Linked DNA regions of Homo sapiens: region 2 is linked to region 1. Evidence: fine-mapped expression QTL. A gene starts in region 1. The other region holds a variant in brackets. All regions are shown on one strand. Distances are from middle to middle.

The links. PIP is the estimated chance that this variant, and not a neighbour inherited with it, causes the effect.
Region 2: its variant is fine-mapped to the expression of SETX in whole blood (TOPMed, PIP 0.93).

What each region holds. Positions count from the first base shown.
Region 1 is chr9:132,348,874-132,360,711 of GRCh38, reverse strand. SETX (senataxin) reads left to right here and starts at 5,726. Exons shown (of 26, transcript NM_015046.7): 1 at 5,726-5,795; 2 at 6,957-7,063; 3 at 11,277-11,460. The coding sequence starts at 11,284. RefSeq lists silencers at 5,427-5,816, 5,867-6,076 and enhancers at 5,461-5,960, 4,942-6,141, 5,961-6,462, 9,470-9,519.
Region 2 is chr9:132,269,164-132,281,001 of GRCh38, reverse strand. It overlaps SETX (senataxin), which reads left to right. Exons shown (of 26, transcript NM_015046.7): 21 at 2,745-2,932; 22 at 3,850-3,942; 23 at 5,582-5,746; 24 at 9,194-9,292; 25 at 11,300-11,387. Among named protein-coding and RNA genes, the nearest start is that of SETX, 80 kb to the left of the region's middle. RefSeq lists a silencer at 11,072-11,246 and enhancers at 10,347-11,332, 10,451-11,650, 11,333-11,838. The variant T/G (reference allele first, on the strand shown) is at 5,555.

The DNA of each region.
Region 1 (11,838 bases):
CATGGTCTTGGCTCACTGCAACCTCTGCCTCCTGGGTTCAAGTGATTCTCCTGCCTCAGCCTCCCGAGTAGCTGGGACTACAGGTGCCCTCCACCACGCCCAGCTAATTTTTTTTTTTTTTTGAGACGCAGTCTAGCCTTGTCGCCCAGGCTGGAGTGCAGTGGCGCGATCTTGGCTCACTGCAACCTCTGCCTCCTGGGTTCAAGCGATTCTACTGCCTCAGCCTCCTGAGCAGCTGGGATTACAGGCACCCACAACCATGCCCAGCTAATTTTGTATTTTTACTAGAGATGGGGTTTCACATGTTGGTCAGGCTGGTCTCAATCTCCTGACCTCGTGATCCACCCGCCTCGGCCTCCCAAAATGCTGGGATTACAGGCGTGAGCCACCACGCCTGGCCTAACACCCCATTTTCAATAATGGATGTAACACTCAGACATAAGATCATTAAAGAAACAGAGGAATTGAATGACACTATAAACCAACTAGCCCTAACAGGAATATACAGAACATTCCAACCACCAGCAGCAGAATAGACATTCTTCTCGTGTGCACATGAAACATTGTCTAGAACAGGTCATATGTTAGGCCTCAAGCAATTTTCCATACATTTAAAAAGGTTGAAATCATGAAAAGTATATGCGCTGACCACAATAGAATGAAACTGCAAATAACAGAAGGAAGACAAAAAAATTCAAAAATATGTGGAAATTAAACAACATGCTCTAAAACAACCAATGAGTCAAAGAAGAAATCAAAAGGGAAGTTAAACACTTTGGGCTGGGTGTGGTGTCTCACACCTGTAATCCCAGCACTTTGGTAAGCCGAGGTGGGAGAACTGCTTGAGCTCAGGAGTTCGAGGCCAGCTTGGGCAACATAGCAAGACCTTGTCTCTACTAAAAAAAAAAGAAAAAATCAGCCAGGCATGGTGGCATTTGCCTATAGTCCCAGCTACTTGGGATGCTGAGGTAGGAGGATCGCTTGAGCCCTGGATATCAAGGCTATAGTGAGCTGTGATCATGCCACTGCACTTCACCCAGGGCAACAGAGAATGATTCTGTCTCAAAAATAAATAAATAGATAAAATAAAATACTTTGAGACAAATGAACACAAAAATACAACATACCAAAATCTATGGGATGTAGCAAAAGCAGTGTTCCAAGGACAAATTATAGCTGTAGACACCTACATTAAAAAAGAAGAAATATCTCAAATCAGTAACCTACTCTTTTACCCCCAAATGGCTGTGGAATTTGTTTGCTTAATGCATAATGGTCCTGGCAAAAATCAGTTAACCAACACTGAGAGATTTGTAATGAAAAACCAACTTTAAATATTCATTACACCTTGATAGAAATTAGAGTTTACACAAACAAAAAAAGAAACTTTTGATATTGTCAGTCAATATAAAATGAATGTAATATGACTGATAGCATGGCAAGAAGGCATTTATACATTTTTCTCTAACATCTGACCACAGTTTAAGTTGCCATAATATCTTCTCTCCAGATAAAAATAGTATACTGATTTCTATAGCAAAGATTTTCTTGTACAAAAATCAAACAATGGATAAGTCACAACCGTAAAATATATATAGGATTAAAAAAACACATCAAACAGGTTCTGAAACTAAAGAACAACTAGGAGGAGGAGGAGGATAGAGCCCTTGTAGGGGGCTTGTTTTCATCCACTTGAATGTGTGTGGGGTTTGTCTTCTGAGCCACAAGTTCTGACTTGTCTCATAAAAGCCAGTTATTCTGACCAAACTTCTAAGTAAACACACAAAACACTTCTAATATTAAACATTGAAATAAATGTAGGCTATACATTCAAGAAAGATTAATAAAAGACTAATCTTTATTAATAAGATTAACAAGGTAATAATCTACCCACTCATTCCAGTTCAGGATCGCGGATGGCCAGAATCTTTCCTGGTGCCAGGTGGGTGCCAACTCTGGACAAGATGCCATCCCTTTGCAGGGTATACACTCACACACACACCCATGCTCACTCAGGCTAGGACAATGTAGACATGCCAATCAACCTAACTGGCACATCTTTGGAATCGGGAAGGAAATTGGAGTACCTGGAGGAAACCCACACAGACATGGGGAGAAGGGGCAAACTCCACACACAAAGTGGCCTCGGGGCCAGGCACGGTGGCTCACACCTGTAATCCCAGCACTTTGGGAGGCTGAGGCAGGCGGATCACGAGGTCAGGAGTTCAAGACCAGCCTGGGCAACATGCTGAAACTCCGTGTCTACTAAAAATACAAAAATTAGCTGGGCGTGGTGGTGCGTGCCTATAATCCCAGCTACTCAGGAGGCTGAGGCAGGAGAATTGCTTGAACCGAAACCTGGGAGGCGGAGCTTGCAGTGAGCCAAGATCGCATCACTGCACTCCAGAGCCTGGGCTACAGAGGGAGATTCCGTCTCAAAAAAAAGCCTTGAGCAGGAATGGATTTTTTTTTTCTCATCAATGTTATAACAAAACCACATTGAACAAAATGATCTTATTAGAGAACCTGCTATACTTAATATTGTTAAGGTGTCAATTGATTCCCCAGATGTATCTAAAAATACAATTCAATCCCTATAAAAATTCCAACTGCTTGTACTTATTTATTTGCAGAAACGGGACAAGCCAATTCTAAATATTCACATGGAATAGCAAGGGACCTTAAGTAGCTAAAACAATTTTGAAAAAGAACGATACTGGAGGCCTCATACTTCCCAGTCTTTTTATTTATTTATTTATTTATTTATTTATTTATTTATTTATTTATTTATTTATTTTTGGAGATGAGGTCTCACTCTGTCGCCTCGCCTCTCGGGTTCAAGCCATTCTCCTGTCTCAGCCTCCCAAGTAGCTGGAACTACGGGCATGCACCACTAAGCCTGGCTAATTTTTGTATTTTTAGTAGAGACCGGGTTTCACCATGTTGGCTAGGCTGGTCTTGAACTCCTGACCTCAGGTGATCTGCCCACCTCAGCTTCCCAAAGTGCTGGGATTACAGGCCTGAGCCATTGCGCCTGGCCATGTTTATGGTTTTATCAGCTTTAGAAGTTTGTAATTTGTACTTATTTATTCATTCCAAATAAGTATTAATTTTCATTTCTAATTTTATATTTACAAAGTCTATTGCAGTGCTTCTGTTTAACATTCTATAGGTTGTGTAAGTTTTGGGCTCAACAATTCCTGAATGCACCTTGAATCAATGAGTCTCAGGACATAACATTGAGTGTAAAAAGCAATTTGCAGAAAAATACATCCTCCATAATTCCATATACAGAGTTAAAAAGCATGTAAAATTTATATGTTGTTCACAGACAAAAAATGTGGGAAGATGATAAGGCCTACAGAGGGCTTCAGGGACAGGAGGAAATTATGACTTTTGTGGGCTCTGGGCACAAGTTACCTTCATGGCACTTTTCTCCATTAAAAAAAATGATAAAAATTATATTTTATGGCCGGGTGCGGTGGCTCAAGCCTGTAATCCCAGCACTTTGGGAGGCAGAGGCGGGCGGATCACGAGGTCAGGAGATCGAGACCATCCTGGCTAACACGGTGAAACCCTGTCTCTACTAAAAATACAAAAAATTAGCCAGGCGTGGTGGCACGTGGCTGTAGTCCCAGCTACTCGGGAGGCTGAGACAGGAGAATGGCGTGAACCCGGGAGGCGGAGCTTGCAGTGAGCCGAGATGGCGCCCCTGCACTCCAGCCTGGGCGACAGAGCGAGACTCGTCTCAAAAAAAAAAAAAAATTATATTTTATGACTGTGGTGGTATAAAGGCTGTGTTGGTATATTAGTGTTATATGATAAAACAAAATATGTTCAAAATATTTGACAGGATGAAGAAGTAGAAAAGAGGAAAATAACGGTCAACGCGTGCTGCTCCTTAGACGGTTAAATTTGCATAACGGCCACCACGCCCTTCCAACAAGCCACGCCCCCTTGCTAGAATCTTCCTTCGCCTTGGGCCTTTCCCGCAGTGTTCCCCTGGGCTTGCTCCTCATCCTCGGGCCAGGGTTCTCCTCGGTAAGGCTGTATCTGACCCACTTTTCCCAAGCTGGCCCATCTCAGCCTCTTTTTTTATCGCCTGAGTCACCACTACTAATTGTTTAATTTCCCTGTCTCCTCTATTAACTGTAAGACGGTGACGCTGCATCATCGTGGTCAGTAGTAGGCGTTACTAAAAGGGGGTAGGGGCCGGGTGCGGTGGATCACGCTTGTAATCCCAGCACTTTGGGAGGTCGAGGCGGGGCGGATCACTTGAGGTTGGAGTTTGAGACCATCCTGGCCAACATGGTGAAACCCCATCTCTACTAAAAACATGAACATTAGCCGGGCGTGTGGCACACGCCTGTACTCCCAGCTACTCGGGAGGCTGATGCAGGAGAATCATTTGAACCCAGGAGGCGGAGGTTGCAGTGAGCCGAGACTGCGCCACTGCACTTCAGCTTGGGTGACAGAGCGCGACTCCATCTCAAAAACAAAAAAGGGGGGGGATAGGCTTTCCAGTGGATTTTACTCATTTTTATTTATTTATAGACTTTTCTGAGACAGGGTCTTGCTTTGTTCCCCAGCCTGGAGTGTAGTGGCACAGTCACGGCTCACTGCAGTCTCGATCTCCCGGTCTCAATGGATATCCACCCCCTGCCTCAGCCTCCCAACAAGCTGGGCCCACAGGTGCTAATTTTTTTTTTTTTTTTTTTTTTTCCGGAGAGAGAGTCTCGCTCCTTTGCCCAGGCTGGAGTGCAGTGGTGCGATCTCGGCTCACTGCAACCTCTGCCTCCCGGGTTCAAGCCATTCTCATGCCTCAGCCTCCTGAGTAGCTGGGATTACAGGCACCCGCCACCACGCCCAGGTAATCTTTTTATTTTTAGTAGAGACGGAGTTTCACCATGTTGGTCAGGCTGGTCTCGAACTCCTGACCTCAGGTGATCCACCCGCCTCGGCCTCCCAAAGTGCTGGGATTACAGGCGTGAGCCACCGCGCCCGGCCTCGGTGGCTGAGTTTTAATTTTTTTTTGTACATACGGGTGTCTCGCTATGTTGCACAGGCTGGTCTCTGAACTCCGGGCTCAAGCGAGCCTCCCGCCTGGGCCTCCCAAAGTGGTGGGATTAGAAGCGGGAGCCACCGCACCAGCGAGGGATTTACTCTGCTGTGTTGCGCATCGCGCGCATTGTTCGCAAGACCTAAGGTCTCCCTTTCTTGTAATATAAAGGATATACACATATTCCTCCGAAATTACACGTTTATGTAATTTACATTTCAGGTCTTTAAAGGAAATCTAAAGAGAAAAATTACTTCGTCACCGTAGTACATCCGCTGAGACACCTGAGGCGTGGAAAAAAGAAGAAAAAAGAGGGAACGGAAATGGCCAGCGGGTAAGGGCTGACCCCACCCGCAGCAGAGCTCATCCCGGAGCCGCCCCACCCGCAGGAAGCCCCGGGCGGGGCCGAGGTCAAGGTTCCGCGGCAAACTCTCCCCGTCCACCCTGACGGGGACTCGGGATTGGTCGGGCCCCAGCTGCCCGGACGTGACGCCAGCGCCCGGCGTGGGCGGTGCACCGCGGCCGCTCTTCCCATGCCCCGCCCCCTGGGGGGCACCAAAACCAGAAAGCAGCGGCCGGGGCGGGGCCTGCGGCCGGCCGACTCAGCGCGGGGGCGGGGCCTACCTCGCGGCAACAGCTGGTTGGTAGCTGCGGCTGCGGGCCCGCACTTCCGCTGGTGGCCTAGAGCGGGGCCCGGTATGGAGGTGGGCTAGAGGCCGACGCCAGCCAGAGAGCGGTGAGGGTAGCGGCGGGCTGGAGGCCGTAGGTCGGGCGGGCGTGAGCGCAGGCGCGGCTTGTGCTTGCAGGGCCGCTTCGGGGAACCATCGCGGCGCCTAGGTCCCGGTGGGCGGATGGGGGAAGAGTCGGCGCGGGCTCGGCCGCTTCCCTCGGTGCGGGGGCGGGAGCACCCCTCGACGGCTGGCGGCCGCCTGTTGCCTTCCTGCGCGCTGGACCCGGCCGCTGCGACCCCCTGTCCTTCCGTTGTCTACACTGCGGTCTCGTGTGAGCTGTTTTTGGTGTGGATACTGCGTAGTTTCCTTGGGGCTGAGCGGGAGGTCTCGGGGTGGAAAGTGTCGGTTCCCTCCACACGCTCGTCTGCCTCTCGCCTGGAGTCCCTCCCTTTGTTTTTTTTTCTTTTTTCTTTTTTTTTTTTTTTTGAGACGGGGTCTCGCTCTGTCACCCAGGCTGAAGTGCAGTGGAACAGTCACGGCTCGCAGCAACCTCGTCTTCCTGGGCTCCAGCGATCCTTCCGCCTCATCCCCCCGAGTAACTGGGACCATAGGCGCGCGTCACCACGCCCGGCTAATTAAAAACAAAATGTGTTGCAGAGACAGGGCCTGGCTGTGTTTCCCAGGCTGAGCTCAGCTGCTCCAGGGATCCTCCGAGCCGCCGCGCCCGGCCGGTCCCTTCGTTTGGAGGAGAGTCTGTTTCTCCCACTTGGAGGGGCTGGAGCTTTTGCTGCTGGCCACAGGACTTTGTCCGTCCTCCCCAACTTCTGGGGATCTAAGGATGTGCCCAGCAATTTGCACGACCCAAGTGAAACGGGGGTGACTGCCTTGAGGGAAAAGAGCTCCACAAGGAGAAGGCCGAGTGTGGTATTTGATAAGTGACACAGCTGAGGATCCTAGGATTGATGTTACCTGCGCGGGCTAATAACTTGGGGGATTTTTGGCTCGGTGCCTAGCTGTCCCCGTGAGTGGGGACAGCCCCTTGTGGAACTGGGAGTCAGAATTGCAGTTCTGCTGTTTCCTGGAAGTCCACAGCCAAGTTGTCTAACCTATCTGGGCTTCCTCATCAGCCAGCAGTATCTGTCTGTAATAGGATCGATACCAGGCTCAGATGGGATATAGAGTATAAATGCCACTTACCAATTTCGTTTTTTGTTTTTTAATTTCAGAAATGTTCTTTTGGGGCCAGAGTCTGGGCATATATGAATGCAAATCCGTGTTTGTTCACAACTAAGCCCAGCTGAGACGATCACTTTTCTGTAGGCCATTTGTCCAGGTAATAATTTTTTTTTTTAGCAGGAGTTCAGAGCACCAAGGTAAGTGCAATGATGGAAACATGTGCAGAGTCCTAAAGGGACAGAGAAGAAGGTCATCAGAGATAGACTGGAAGAGAGGACGGGTCGGACAGGCCCCCCCCCCAGACGTGATGACACTCAGGAAGAGCTTGCACACTGGTTGTTCTCAAATCCAGCTTTCTCTTCGAATCTTAGTGGAGTTCTTTAAAAGGGAAACAATTTTATCCATAGGATCTTTTCTACTTTTTTTTTTAAGTTCCTGAGGTAAGTCTGATGTGTATTCACAGTTAAGTACCGGGCAGAGGTAGGAGGGTGGGTTTCCAAGGCCAGTGGAAGAGCTTCCATAAAGGCAGGGAATACCAGTCACCATGAATGGTTTTAGGAAGAGCAAGTCAAGGGAGGTAAGTGTGGAGGAAAGAGATGATGTGGAAGCTGGATCATCGCGGGCCTTGTGTGTGTTGAGCTCAGCAATTTGAATTTTATCCCAACATTGGAGGAGGAGTCATTTGTGCTTTCGAAGTCCAGTTTGGGGCTTTGGCCTCTGGCAGCATTTTGGAGGAGGAATTGATGGCGATCAAAGAAGAAATAGATCATTTAGGCTTCTTCAGTAATCCAGGCAAATGATGAAAATGTACTGAACTAAGGCAGTGGCGGTTGCACTGAGAAGAAAGTAGAGATGTAATTAAGGGGTAGGCTCTGGAGCTCAGAGATTGCGGCTGAGGGAGAAGGAGCGTATAGGATAATTCCTAGGTTACTGGTTTGAAAATTGAATGTATGGTAATGTCATCAACAAGGGAATATAGAACAAATAACAGATTTAAGGGAAGGACTTCGTTGGGTTCTGGTCATGTTTACTTTGAGGTGCCTGTCAGATATGTGAGTAGAGATACACTGTATGCAGTTGGATATTGAATATATCTGGAGTTCTAGGCTAGGCTGTCAGTTATTGAGTAGGTGGAACAGTGCATCATTTCACTCAACCTCCCCAGTAGCTGCGACTACAGGTGCATACCACCATGCCCAGCTAATTTTTATATTTTTAGTAGATACGGGGTTTCACCATGTTGGCCAGGATGGTCTTGATCTCTTGACCTCGTGATCCCTCACGCCTCGGCCTCCCAGAGTGCTGGAATTACAGGTGTGAGCCACTGCGCCCTGCCTGCATTAAGTTTTACAATACATTCTCAGTCTGGGCAGCTTCAATCTAGGCAGTAGTTGAAGCAGTGGTTTGAAGTAGGCCGCCCAGAAAGAGTACTGAATGAAGAGGTGAGAATTCTCAGGACAAGCCTTCGAAAACTTTAGCATTTATATGAGTAACAAAGGCAGGGGTAATTATGAAGGTGATTGGGTAGAAGTGGTGTCCAAAAAATGGTGTGTTGTAGGTAAGGAAAGGATGGGCAGCATTTTCATATGCTTTAGCAGAGTCAGGTCAGGAACCTATTGGATTGGTAATGTAAAGATTGTTAGGGACTTCACATTCAGTGGAGTGTAAGGGTAGAAGCCAGAGTGCAAAGGAGCTGAAGAGCTGGGAGGTAGTGAATCTAAACTTCCAGATGTTTAGCTGAGAAGTGTAGAAGAAAGAGATTGTTATTTGAAGTTTCTGGCTAGTTAATGTTGAGAAATGGATAGCCTAAGGATAAGTCTGTAGAAAATTACAGTAATACCTATGGTGAAGCATCCTATATTTTTGGTTTTGACACATTAGCTCTCTTTTTGGTGGGTGCTCAGAGAGTTGCTTTAATTTTGGTTTTGCAACTTGAGTATTGTCTGGACACACCCATTTGTCATTCACTAATGATTGCAAGCCGTTACAGTCTGATGAAACTAACAAAATAGACCTCAAGAAGAACTGAGTTGTATAAAAGCTTAAGAGGATTCACAGTAGTTTAGAAGCAATAATTTTCTCCTTAAAGACAAAATATGCCCTATTGAGGTTTCCTGGGCTTAGCCATTAGGCCAGTGATGATTTTAAATTTGAAGACAAAACCACACACACAGCCTTTTGAAGAAGAACCATGGAAGCACATGTTCTCTTGTTGGTGTGCTCTGCAGCAGTATTCTCCGTTATCTTCTAGCGGCCATGACACTCACCTATTTTGGTAGTAACTCCTATATATTTTGAGAAAATTTAGTCTTGCTTTTTTGGTTGTGGAAATAGGCTAGTTTTCTAAGTGAAATAAAAAGCAAATTCTGTAATTTTCTTAATAGAAGGTTTCTTTTGTTGTCTCCTTTGTTAGTACTTATTTTAAAGTACACAACATTTGGAGCTTCAAGTAAGGTAAGTGGGAAAAGAAGTATGCAACATTTTATTTGCATGGTAGTCTCACTTAAGTTTTTTAAAGCTTAAATTGGCTGCAGTCTGTTAGCTGCTGAAATCATGCTTCAAATGTTTGAGAAACCTCCATGAAGTTTCACTTTCTGTTCTTACGTCTTCTAAGTTCACTTTCCATATTAAACTAGGTTACCGGAAAAAAAAACAGCTTCTGCAAGCTGTTAACTTACTAGTAGTGTGATGTTGGCCTCTTAGGTATAAGTAATTCTTCTTTTGAATAAAATAATTTTAAATTCTGCAGAAATACATTGAAGACCTTATCCCATGTTACTTGGCATTTCCTAGTCTGCAGTGCCCTTGTACTAGAAGGCATTAATAAAATGTAATTGAGTTAGAGTTTGTGTCAGGAAAGGGCGGTACTCTGCGGCTATCACTGCATACTCTTTTTCCCCCCCACGTCGATGAGAACTGTGTAACTCATGTTATCCTTTTTCTCTGCTTTCAGGAAGCTCCTCATGTAGAACTTAGTGAAATTAAATTTCTTCTAAAGAAGTTTTGATTTTGTTTTTTGAAATCTCATTTTTAAATGTCCTTTTGTGTGTATGTACTTTAATGTTGAAAGCTACCCTAAATTCTTTTTAGAACCATGAAGAAAGTATACCTCTTCAAAAGCATAAGTAAAAGTAATATTTAATAAATTTTAAAAAATCAATTCATATGACAATGTATTTGATTATGCTTATGCATTTCTAAATAATTATTTAATTGTGGGTATAAGAAGAAATTAAAGAATTTTAAAAAATCACTTTATTTTAGGAACTAGCTTTATGCCACAGAAGCCTCAGCAGCCAAGCCTAGTTTCTGTTGAGATGTTTTATATTTCCTGTTGGTAAAGATTATGTATTCTGAATTTTAGGGTGACGGTGATACTCAAAAATCTCACACTGCCATGTTTCCATTCCCACATACTCAGTGTCTTCACTTAGGTTTCTTTTGTTTGTTTGTTTTGAGACAGAGTTTCACTCTGTCACCCAGGCTGGAGTGCAGTGGCGCAATCTTGGCTCACTGCAACCTCTGCCTCCCACGTTCAGGCAGTACTCCTGCCTCAGCCTCCCAAGCAGCTAGGATTGCAGATGCGCACCACCAGCTAATTTTTGTATTCTTTTTAGTAGAGATGGGGTTTCACCATGTTGGCCAGGCTGGTCTCGAACTGCGGACCTCAAGCAGTCTGCCCACGTCGGCCTCCCAAAGTGCTGGGCTTACAGGCATGAGCCACCGTTCCCAGCTTACTTAGGTTTTTTAACCTCCTTCTAACCTTTCTCCCTGAGTGGAGAGTTTTTAAACATTTTTAAAAACTGCCTCTCCTGTGAATTTTATTACCACCAATATATTGTGTCTCTCTTTATGTACTGTATGTTTATCTGAGCTTTATATCTAAAAAGAGGAGGGCTTTTTCACGTCCCACTAACTAGTTTTAGATCTCTTTGAGGGTGACATCACTCCTGATGAGAATGCTGAGCTAGGTCCATTCAGTTTATGAAATGAACTTAAGTTTGTAGTTGGTAACTTTTTTCCCCATTCCAAAATCTGTACTTTGAAAATATTGGTAAGTCTGGGTCTCTATATATTTTCTATCGGTACTGTGTTGTTTTGAGCCTTCTCTGTAGCACAACTTTATGTTGCCTTATGATACTTATTCCTTATACAATGCTTTTATTTTTCTGTATTTTTCGTATGTCAAAAATAGAAGGATTTTTTTAGTTTAGTGAATCAGTGATTGATAAGCCAGCCAGCAGAAGATTTGGGTTTTAGTGACACATTTTAAATTGAAACCAGGGTCACAAGTTGAAAGTGTACCTATTCTTGACACACAGTAGGTCTGAAGTTGGTTTTCTTCTTGATGTCATCTTTTCTGGCTGTAGGTACAGAATGAGCACATGTTGTTGGTGTACGCCAGGTGGTGCTTCCACCATTGACTTCCTAAAGCGCTATGCTTCCAACACTCCGTCCGGTGAATTTCAAACAGCCGACGAAGACCTCTGCTACTGCTTGGAGTGTGTGGCTGAGTACCACAAAGCAAGAGATGAATTGCCATTCTTGCATGAGGTAAAATATATTAGATGGGCAATATTTTTCAGAGCTTGATAGCTGGGAAGAGAGTAAGTTTGAACTCCGTTGGAAGTATTCAGAGAAATGATGATACGATTTCAACTTTGTGGGTTTTTTTTTTTGTTTTTGTTTTGTTTTTGTTGTTGTTAGAGATGGAGTCTCACTCTGTCACTCAGGCTGGAGTGCAGTGGAGTGATTATACATATATCATTTTACACATTCGAGTATATTCTTAGGACAAATTCCTGAAAGTGGAAGTGCTGTCTCATGATTTTCCATGGGCCACATGGGTTTTCATAGTTTGTTTTGCTATGTTTTGGAGACAAGGTCTTTGCTCTGTTGCCCAGGCTGGAAGTGCAGTGGTGCGATCACGGT
Region 2 (11,838 bases), 80 kb after region 1:
TTCCATTTTTAGAATTTGGTATTCTAGTGTTAATACAAGAACATGTCTGTGCCCTTCACATCATCTGAAAGTGAAGGTACAGGGGAAAAAAAGACTCAATTACAAGCTCTGACTTTGGGAAGAGAAGAACCAGACTGTAGTCTACTCTTCTCTGTTGGTTTTTTTTAATCTCATGAAAGATTCTCCTGGAAATGCACATTAGAATCAGGATCCAGTAGATGTTTTGAAGTAATCTGAAGAGGTTTTGAAATTTAATGAAATGTGTATTTTTTACTAATAACATAGATTATTTATACAGATAATTGAGCAGTGGCTTCATAAATAATCCTAGAGAACAGATCATTTTCAAAGCATTTTTGTTGAAGCTTGGAATGAATGCAGGTGGTTATCGTTAGTGGTTTTTGATTTCGGAATTATTCAGAATGATAGTGCAGTTCTTTGTATGACATTTGAGCGCAGGTACATGATCATGTTAGAGTGTGGCCCAGAAGCACACCCGTCACCCAGTGAAAACCCGTGTGTGTAGGGAAGAACTGCTGCAGGTAACTTTGTTCACGGAGAATAATGAAGAGCAAATTCTGTATCCCATTTCTTTAAATGATGCAGGATTTCATTGAAGGGCCTTGGCATATAGTGAAAAGAGAGATTGTTAATGGGCCTCAACTTTACTGCCTACTTCAATGATTGATAAAAACAACAAAAATTAGAAAAAAAAAATCCATTTGTGCTGTTTAAATTGTTGTACAAATAAAACAGGCTATTTTGAGAAAATAATTACAAAGTTCATTTCCATAAGGTGCCTTTTTTGACCACCTGTTTCTAGTGGTAATTACAGTGAAAGTGAGTATTTTTAACAGATATTGCTAGGCATTTGTGTGTTTATTCGTCTTTTTCAGTATGTATATATTGAGTGCCACCATAATTCAGGCACTGTTTAGGGGCTGGGGTTATGACAGTGAAGAAAACAGACAAAATCCCTGCCCTTATGGTGTTTGTATTCTAGGGGTTAACAGTGAGTCAGTTACTAAAAAGTGGTATATGGTTTGTATACATGTATATGTTTATGTGTATATGTACGTGGGTTTGGTTTTGTTTAAAGGTGGCAAAATCATTCTGTGCAGAATTGGTTTTTTTTTCAATCAGTAAATCAGGGACATCCTCCCATGTCAGAATATATATTAATAAATCTATGTCATTTGTAGAATGGACTAAGGTTTTGTCTGGAGGTAGATGCGTTACCTTACATAACTTCCTTTTCTGTTTCCCCAAAGAAAAGATTAAAAATTAGGTTTTGTGAGCTAACGCAGATAAACTTTTGAGGATTTAGGGAAAATTGGCATGTATCTATTAATAATTATTTTATGCTTTCACAAACCTGTTTAAAATCACACATATAAATAGGTTAAGAAGTAATGCCTTTCTTCCACTCCCATAGTTTGTGAAACAAGTTTATTCAGGCTTTGCACGTCTTCAGTGCCAGTATCTTTCACATCACTCATGAAGATTCCATCATCTTAGTGAAGTTTTCAGCACATTTTTACTTCAGGGTTATTTAAGATAAAGTACTTTTTGAAACTTTTCTTTTTTAATTATACTTTAAGTTCTAGGGTACATGTTCACAACATGCAGGTTTGTTACATATGTATACATGTGCCATGTTGGTGTGCTGCACCCATTAACTCGTCATTTACATTAGGTGTATCTCCTAATGCTATCCCTCCCCCTCCCCTTTTTGAAACTTTCTGTGTTGCTGCCATCGGAAAGTAGATCCCAAGGCACAACTGTGGTAACATCAAGACAGTTTATCCCACTTGTCACTTAGGTCACTGTTTTTCAGATTGCAGAATATAACCCATTATTTGGTTTGTGAAATCCATTTAGCACAGCTTCGGCGTTCCTAATTCAAAAATTTGAAATGCTTCACCATCTGAAACTTCCCAAGTGCTGACTTTATGCTTAAAGTTCACGCTCGAAGGATATGCTCATTGGAGTATTTTGGATTTTTGGATTAGGGATGGTCAACACATAAGTCGAGTCTGTTTCCTTCACTGGAAATTAAGTCCTGTGAGACTTCATCTTATTCACTCTAGTGGTCTTAGCACTTCAAATTATAGATGCTTAGTACATATTAGATGGATGAATGAAGAATTTTGTCTTCAAAAGGCTTGTTTACAGTGGCATTCAATATGTCTGTCTGTGAGGGTGTACCCCCAGAAATAATTGTTAAAATCTGTGTTACATTTCCTTTATTACTGGTTTTTTTGGGTGGCGTCTTGTAGCATCAAAATAGCATCAGTTGTCTTTCACAAGATCATATCTCTTTCATTAGCAGTATATGAGTAGAAAAGACCTCCACATATATTCAAGATTCATGGCATTTTGGCCAGGTGTGGTGGCTCATTCCTGTTATCCCAGCTACTCAGGAGGCCAGAGACATGAGAATCGCTTGAACCTGGGAGGTGAAGGATGCAGTGAGCTGAGATCACGCCACTGCACTCCAGCCTGGGTGACAGAGCGAGACTGTGTCTCCAAAAAAAAAAAAAAAAAAAAAAAAAAAAAAAAAAGATTCATGGCATTTTGAGGCTCAGAGTCAGAAACACCTTTTTTCTCTGAAGCTGTGGTTGGTAATCTTATGCTACCTGAACGTTGCCATATACGTATTAGATCTCAGTAATTGTGTTTATAATAGTGGGAAAGATATAAATGAATTCTTGGAAACTGTTGCTTTATTTTGCCCCTCACAGAAAGCACAGGAGTATGGCTACGACCAGTCAATGATGGCTCGCTTCTGCAGACTGCTGGAAGAGAATGTAGAACACAACATGATCAGCAGGCTGCCCATTCTACAGCTCACTGTTCAGTACAGGATGCATCCAGACATATGCCTCTTCCCTTCTAATTATGTTTATAACAGAAACTTAAAAACAAATAGGTGAGTTCCCCTTATTGTTTGTGACCTTATTTTGTTGTAGTTTAGCTACTTATGAAGAATAGACATTTTACTGTCGTCTTAGGTCTTGTCATAAAAAGCATAAATCATGAAGGGTTAATAATTTTGTCCTGTTATAATAGCCATCATGTTGAATACAGCAAAGCACATAAAAAAGAAAAGGGGAAAAAGTCACCTATATTTATACTACCCAGAAATAATCACTGGTAACATTTTGGTATATCCACTTTCAGCAGTCCTTTTTTTTTTTTTTTTTTTTTTTGAAGACAGGGTCTCATTCTGTCACTCACACAGGATGAGTGCAGTGGCACACAGTCCTGGCTCACTGCAGCTTCGACCTCCCAGGCTCAATCAATCCACCTGCCTCAGCCTCCTGAGTAGCTGGGACTACACTCAGTCACCACCATGCCTGGCTAATTTTTGTATTTTTCTTTTTGTAGAAACGGGGTTTCGCTATGTTGCCCAGGCTGCTTTCGAACTCCTGAGCTCAAGCAATCCACCCGCCTTGGTCTCCCAAAGTGCTGGGATTACAGGCGAGAGTCACCGCACCTGGCCAAGTTTCAGTCCTTTTACTATGCATATCTTTTTTTACTTTTTAAATTTTTGAAGGAAAAATGTGGGACCATACTTAACATAGTATTCTGTGGCTTACTCTATTATGAGTGTCTTTCCAATCATACTTGTTATATTTTAATGATATAGACACCTCTCCCAGCACCAGGAAAGAAATAGAATTTGTTTTGTACCTTTCACTAATACACGTCTAGAAAAGAATATTCCTGCTATCCCCTTACTTGCCCCAGCCCACATCACCACACAGAAAAAATTGTAGTAATACCAAGATATTTTCTTAAATCTTGACTTTATTCTGAATGTTGACTGCTTTTTTTTTTTTACAGACAGACAGAAGCCATTCGATGTTCATCAGATTGGCCATTTCAGCCATACCTTGTGTTTGATGTTGGAGATGGTTCAGAAAGACGGGATAATGAGTATGTTTTCCTCTTGCCTCAGTCCTCTGATAGTCCCAGAATTGTTACATGATTTGCATTCATATTTCTGTTAAATACATTTCCTATACACATCTCTCTGCCTAGTGTCAGGGCACAGTCATGTTCACTTAAGTTGATGCTTCTTTTTTCTGTATAATGGGGATAATATTACCTAATGTCATAAGCAAGTGCTTGAGTAGATACTTGTTGAGCTCACAGCAGTGAGGGAAACAGACGTGCCCATTGCAAGATGGTGGTCTCATGGGAAGACAGGCCTTCAGCAGGTCATCACCTGGGTAAGCAGTTATTCCAGTTGGGTTAAGTACTGTGAAGGCTAAGTATAAATTCAGTTGAATGAAAATGTGAAAGGGAGGAAGGAAGTAGTGACAGAGGTTGGATGGTATTGGGTTGTGAATAAGGGCATGTGTTCAGGTGGTCTGTATATGACAGCAAAGAGGAGTGGTGTTGCTAGAAGCAGCAATGTCAGAGGAGCTGGGGATTCTTGTGAGAGAGTAGGGGAGGAATGGTCTAGGGGCAGCATTTGTTGGCACGGATACAAGTGCCACTCTGTCATGAAGTAGGAGGAAACACAAATCCCACTTCTACATCATGGGATGGCTGCAGAGCAGGTGGCGTCCTCAGGCGAGAATCAGGCGTTAGATAAGATACAGAGGTGGAAGTAGGGAACACTCATTGAAGAGGTTACACATACAGAGGAGTTGTTGGCCATGGGATTGTAGTGCTGGAGGGACTGCAGCCTAAAGGTTTTAATGAGGCCTCTTGGAGGAGAGCAGAGGATTGCGAGTTAAGCCGCAGAGCATCATGAGGATTTCAGGGATGGAAGAGATCGCTAGCTGATTGGGTTGTCCATTTAGTAAGTCTCAAAGTTAGGAGAATGGGTATTTAAGGCTCGTAAAGCAAGGCGGGTAAGGTAGCCTCAGGAATCAAGGGATGGGGCAGTGCATCCCCTGGTCTTGGTGCATTTTGGGTCCGGTATGGTCATGAGGGAGCATGTGTTTTCAGGAGGGGTTGAGAGTGCAGGATATGAGGCTGCTGAGGACTACAAAGAGGACATGAACCTGCTCCAGGGCCCCATGTTGTTCAACTGGGGTCAAGTGGGACACATCCTTCACATTGAGTCTGTGTGGATGGCAGCTGCTCGGTTGTGTGGTGTGTGTTGTATGCAGCCAGTGGTGAGGGACAAGGAAGATCATACATGTAAAGCATTTTCTCAGTGTTCGGAAGATAGTTAATCCTTAATTCATGTTAGCTATCTCTTATTCACATCTTTGTTCTTATTAATACTGCTGTTCTTAATACTGCTCTCCCTGTTTCAACAGATGAAGAAAGTGGTGCCTAAACTTCAGTTGATTTCAAACTCTTTTCTCTCTACAACTTCATTTTTCACTGGGCATTTCACATGTATTCATATTTACCATAGTATTTTCACATTTATTCATATATACCATATTAATGGTCATTGTAACAGCCTCTTGGAGTCACTGCTAGCTGAATAAAAGATGAAGCCTATCTGCCTGCCCTTTACTATAATGGGAAACAAACTCAGTGGAACTTAAGTTAGCAATTAGCCTGCTATTAGTTTTGATAACAC[T/G]GTGTTTTCTTTTTCCATCTTGTTTAGCTCATATATAAATGTTCAAGAAATAAAACTGGTGATGGAAATAATTAAGCTTATTAAAGACAAAAGAAAGGATGTTAGTTTTCGAAACATTGGCATAATAACTCATTACAAGGCCCAGAAGACGATGATTCAGAAGGATTTGGACAAAGAGTTCGATAGAAAAGGGTGAGGCATTTTTATAAATATTTCCAATTTTCTTGTTGAATTAGAATGAGAGGATATAGAAGGAAAGAAGAAAAGGGAAACTCTTAAGGAGTGGTCTGTGCAAATTGGTGATACGGCACGAGGAAGCTGGGATGCTGCTGGCTTTCATAGACTTGTGCTGTGTGGCTCCTGGGTAGACAGGTTACTTCCTGGCAGTTGGAATGTCAACATTCTCCTTGGCAGTGGAATTGACTAAGAAACTTGCCAGGTCTTTACCTTTTAGTTCCATGACTTGTTCATCTGAATTCTTGTTCTAGCAAGACTAAAAGTAACATTTCACTTTAAATAAATGATTTAACCCTTGTATTGCCTTTATGTATAGAATGAAAATCATGTTTTTGTTTCCTTCTTACCTCAGCAGTAAAATTAAAGATTAAATATTGGAGATCCATAACCTTAAAATCATCTTAACTTAGAAGCACACAGACTACCAAAATCGAATCTAGAAAACAATAGAAAATCAGACCTGTAGGCTGGGTGTGGTGGCTCACACCTGTAATCCCAGCACTTTGGGAGGCTGAGGCGGGCAGATCACCTGAGGTCAGGAGGTTGAGACCAGCCTGGGCAACATGGTGAAACCCCATCTCTACTGAAAAAAAATACAAAAATTAGCCAGGCGTGGTGGCGCGCTCCCGTAGTCCCTGCTACTCGGAAGGCTGAGGTAGGTAAATCGCTTGAACCCAGGAGGCGGAGGCTGCAGTGAGCTGAGATTGCCCCACTGCATCACTCCAGCCTGGGTGACAGAGCGAGACTCCATCTCAAAAAAAAAAAAAAAAGAAAAAATCAGACCTTTATAACAAATAATGAAACATTTCCCAATAATGAAAAGCCCAGAACCAAGCTAAGCTGGTGAATTCTATCAAATATTAAAAGAAGAATGAACACAAGTCATTCTCACATGCTTCCAATAAATAGAACACTCAGATTCATTTTTTGAAGCCAGTATTACACTGATACCAAAGCCAAGGGAAAGTATCACAAGAAAACTACAGATCCAAATCCTTTATGACTAGATACAAAAATCCTCAACAAAATAGTGACAAACTGAATTCAGCAGGTTATTACAAGGATTTATACATCAAGACCAAGTGGGATTTATCCCAGGAATGCAAGATTGCTTCAACATATGAAAATCAATATGATATACCATATTAGAAGAATGAGGAGACCCACATAATCAGCTCAGTAGATACAAAAAAAAGTTGCACGGAACCCAAAATGCTTTGATGATTTAAAAAAAAAAAAAGAATACAAAGGAACTTTTTTTATTAATAAAAGGCATTTACAAAAAACTCATAGCTAACGTTATACTTCATGGTAAGAATGAAAGCCTTTCCTCTAAGATCAGGAGAGATGTTTGAAACTCTTAATGCTTTTTTTCAACATTGTACTAGAGGTTTTAGCCAGAGCAGTTAAGTAAGGAAAATAAATAAAAAGCATCTTTACTGGAAAGAAAAAAGTAAAACTCTCTCTTCATAGGTGGCATGATCTTATTTCTAGAAACCCTAACAAAGCCATTCAAAGGCACTATTAGAGATAATAAGCTTAGCAGGATACAAGATTAATATGTGAAAGTTGATTATATTTTGATGCAACTAGCAATGAACAATCTGAAAAGGAAGTTGAAACAATTCCATTTACAATAGCATCAAAAAGAATAAAACACTTCGGAATAAATAGAACCAAAGAAGTATAAGACTTGTACGCTGAAAACTGCAAAACGTTGTTGAAAGGAATTAAAGAACACCTAAATAGGCCGGGTGCAGTGGCTCATGCCTGTAATCCCAGCACTTTGGGAGGCCCAGGTGGGTGGATCACCTGAGGTCAGGAGTTCAAGACCAGCCTGGCCAACATGGTAAAATCTTGTCTCTACTAATTATACAAAAATCAGTTGGGCATGGTGGCACACGCCTGTAATCCCAACTACTCTGGAGGGTGAGGCAGGAGAATCACTTGAACCCGGGAAGCAGAGGTTGCAGTGAGCTGAGATCACTCCATTGCACTCCAGCCTGGGCGACGAGAGCGAAATTCCATCTCAAAACAAAAAAAAAACCACCTAAATAAATGTGAAGACATCCTGTTTTCATGGACTGGAAGACTTAGTGTTGTGTTGTTTTTTGCATTTTTTGTGTGTTTTTTCATTTTTAGTAGAGACAAGGTCTTCCTAAGTTGCCCAGGCTGTTCTCAAACTCCTGAGTTCACACAGTCTTCCCAAAGTGCTTGGATTACAGACATGAGCTACCATGCCCAGCCAAAGACTTAGTATCAGCGTGACCATTTCTGTAAAAAAGGCAGTTGGATTACATCTGTAGATCAATTTGGGGAGCGCTGCCACCTTAACACTAAGTAAATAACTTGTACTATGTGGTACAATGAAATATTAATGAAGAAAGGGATGAAGTTCTGTTACATGCTACAACATGGATGAACTTTGGAAATGTTATGCTAAGGGAACAGTCACAAATAATCACATTTTGTAATTCCATTTATGTGAAACTCACAGTATAAGAAAATCTGTAGAGACAGGAAGTGTATTAGTGGTTGCCAGGGAATGGAGAGAGGAGGAAATTCAGGCTAACCTCCAAGAAAATGTTTTTAAAATGTCTTAGCAGCCGAGCATGGTGGTGCATGCATCTCCTTGGGAGGCTGAGGCAAGGAGGATTGCTTGAGCCCCAGAAGTTTGAGTCCAGCCTGGGCAACGCAGTGAGACTCTGTCTCTCTCTCTCTCTCTTTTTTTTTTTAAGTTTCTTTAAAAATAAAGACTGTAAGGCCAGGCATGGTGGCTCACATCTATAATCCTAACATTTTGGGTGGGTGAGGTGGAAGGATTGCTTGGGGCCAGGGGTTTGAGACCAGCCTGGGCAACATGGCAAGACCCCATCTCTACAAAACATGGAAAAATTAGGGTGGTGGTCCATGCCTGTAGTCCTAGCCACTTAGGAGGCTGAGACGGAGCTCAGGTGTTCAAGTTACTGTGAGCTATGAATATGCTGGTGCACTCCAGCCTGGACAAGAGTGAGGCTAGACTGTCAAAAACCAAAAAACTAAGCCGGACGCGGTGGCTCACGCCTGTAATCCCAGCACTTTGGGAGGCCGAGGCGGGCGGATCATGAGGTCAGGAGATGGAGACCACAGTGAAACCCAGTCTCTACTAAAAATACAAAAAATTAGCTGGGCATGGTGGCGGGCACCTGTAGTCCCAGCTACTCAGGAGGCTGAGGCAGGAGAATGGCGTGAACCCGGGAGGCAGAGCTTGCAGTGAACTGAGATCGCGCCACTGCACTCCAGCCTGGGCGACAGAGTGAGACTCCGTCTCAAAAAAAAAAAACCAAAAAACTAGTTTATAAATATGTATACTTAATAATTATCTTCCTTTTTCCAGTAAATATGTTTCTCTTTTGTAAATAGACCAGCAGAAGTAGACACTGTGGATGCATTCCAGGGTCGGCAGAAGGATTGTGTTATTGTTACGTGTGTCAGAGCAAATAGCATCCAAGGTTCAATTGGGTGAGTTACTGTCATTGTTGCTCTTTTATACTTGTATACATTGTTGCTTGTTTATAGTTCAGGATTAGGTTCATTATCACTGTTAGAGAACACCATTTGCTTTTTTAATTTTCTTTTGTGAAAACCTGTGTAATACTATGAAAGTTTCTCTTTTAAGTTGTGAAATAGACCCACTGTTAGATCTTGGTGCAATCTTGGCCCACTGCATCCTCCACCTCCTGGGTTCAAGCGATTCTTCTGCATCAGCCTCCCGAGTAGCTGGGACTACAGGCATGTGCTACCACGCCCAGCTAATTTTTGTATTTTTCTGTAGAGACAGTGTTTTGCCAGGTTGCCCAGGCTGGTCTCAAACTCCTGAGCTCAAGTGCTCCACCCACTTTGGCCTCCCAAAATGCTGGGATTACAGGCGTGAGTCACTGCGCCCGGCCTTGGTGTCTTTTATATTAACCCATTTCATAGTGTGAATCTGTTCTTTTATTTAATAAGATTCAAATAAATAATTAGATTATACTTTGCAGAGGCATATTACTCCCCATGGTATGTGTCAAAGTGTCATTGTTTTCTGTGTTTTCCTGCTTTGGCTAAATTTGTTCACCTTAACTACTGTCAGTTTATTTAAGATGCTAAGGACACCTGTATGAGTGACAGAAAATATCCCAAGCCCAAGACTCTTACATGATTATTTGTTTCTTGTCATGAGAAGCAGACAGAATTTACAGGTTATAAATTAGTTCGTTTTCAAATAAAATAGTAATTAAAGTAATCTTTGCCCCTCCCTGGGATGGGCTGCATATACAGAGCCCAGTTGTATCTCAGGGTCAGTTTATAAATAGACCTTTCTTTCCCAGCTAATTTGAAATTTCACTTTTATCATACATCAATTCTATTTCTGAGCTCTTTTTCTGATCTACTGAAATATTTATCTGGTGTTCATGTATTTCTACACTAGTTCTACAATATCTTAACAGTCTAGATATATTTAAATGTAAGAATAAAGTGATTAGGCTGGTACCACATTTTTAGGATTTTTCAAGGCTTCAAGATTGCACTGTTAAAATTTCCAATTATCTTATCCAGGTAAAAATAGGAAATTGATAGATGCATCACTTTGAAGGAAGCCCCGAGGTTTTGGTTTGTTTCCTGTTTTTAATAGGAATTCTTCTGTGCCCGGTACCCTGTATTGGGACGGAGAGTAAGAAAGCACTGTGACTTCTAGAGGAGTGAAGGAGTCCCGGAAAAGCTGCCTGCAGTCCACCTGTGTCTCACATGGGCATGCTGAGTCATTCTAGAGTTCACCTGTGTCTCACTGGCATGCTGAGTCATTCTAGAGTCCATCTGTGTCTCACATGGGCATGCTGAGTCTAGAGTCCACCTGTGTCTCACACGGGCACGCTGAGTCATTCTAGAGTCTACCTGTGTCTCACATGGGCACGCTGAGTCATTCTAGAGTCCACCTGTGTCTCACATGGGCATACTGAGTCATTGTAGAGTCCACCTGTGTCTCACATGGGCACGCTGAGTCATTCTAGAGTCCACCTGTGTCTCACATGAGGATGCTGAGTCATTCTAGAGTCCACCTGTGTCTCACACGGGCACGCTGAGTCATTCTAGAGTCCACCTGTGTCTCACATGAGGATGCTGAGTCATTCTAGAGTCCACCTGTGTCTCACACGGGCACGCTGAGTCATTCTAGAGTCCACCTGTGTCTCACATGAGGATGCTGAGTCATTCTAGAGTCCACCTGTGTCTCACACGGGCACGCTGAGTCATTCTAGAGTCCACCTGTGTCTCACATGAGGATGCTGAGTCATTCTAGAATCCACCTGTGTCTCACACGGGCACGCTGAGTCATTCTAGAGTCCACCTGTGTCTCGGGCTCACTGAGTCATTCAAGATTCCACCTCTGTCAGACACGGGCACGTTGAGTCATTCTAGAGTCCACCTTTGTCTCACATGGGCATGTTAAGTCATTCTAGACAAAGAAGGAACTCTTTTTTTATTGCCTAGATTCCTGGCAAGTTTGCAGAGATTGAATGTCACCATCACACGAGCCAAGTACAGCCTCTTCATCCTCGGACATTTGAGGACCCTGATGGTAGGTACCAGAGAGCTCAGAAGTTTACCCATTGTTACTGTTGTTGGATTGAGTTTTTGTTCTTATTTTCCATCAAAGTGTAAATGATTTCTGGATTACAAAATAATGGTTGTTATGTTTTCCAGCAACTTCTTCCTAGGAGCTTTTGTGTACACGTGAACCATTCGCCTTTTTTCAGCCCAGAACCCAAGTATCTACACTGGGCTCTCAAGGTGACCATTTTAAAACAAATTATCCACATCATAGGATTATTGTTAAGAAGGTATATTAAACCCACAGATGTAAAGTGCCAAAGCAATTGCTTGGCACTTAGTAAACACTCAGTAAATGTGGCTGTTATTGGCCCAGCTTAATGCCAGAGAGAGTTTGCAGGCGCGTGCTCTGCTCTGCTTTTCTGCTGGCACTGGGAGCTGTGCTGCTCACTCTGTTTCTCCAGCACTTAGCGCCTCCG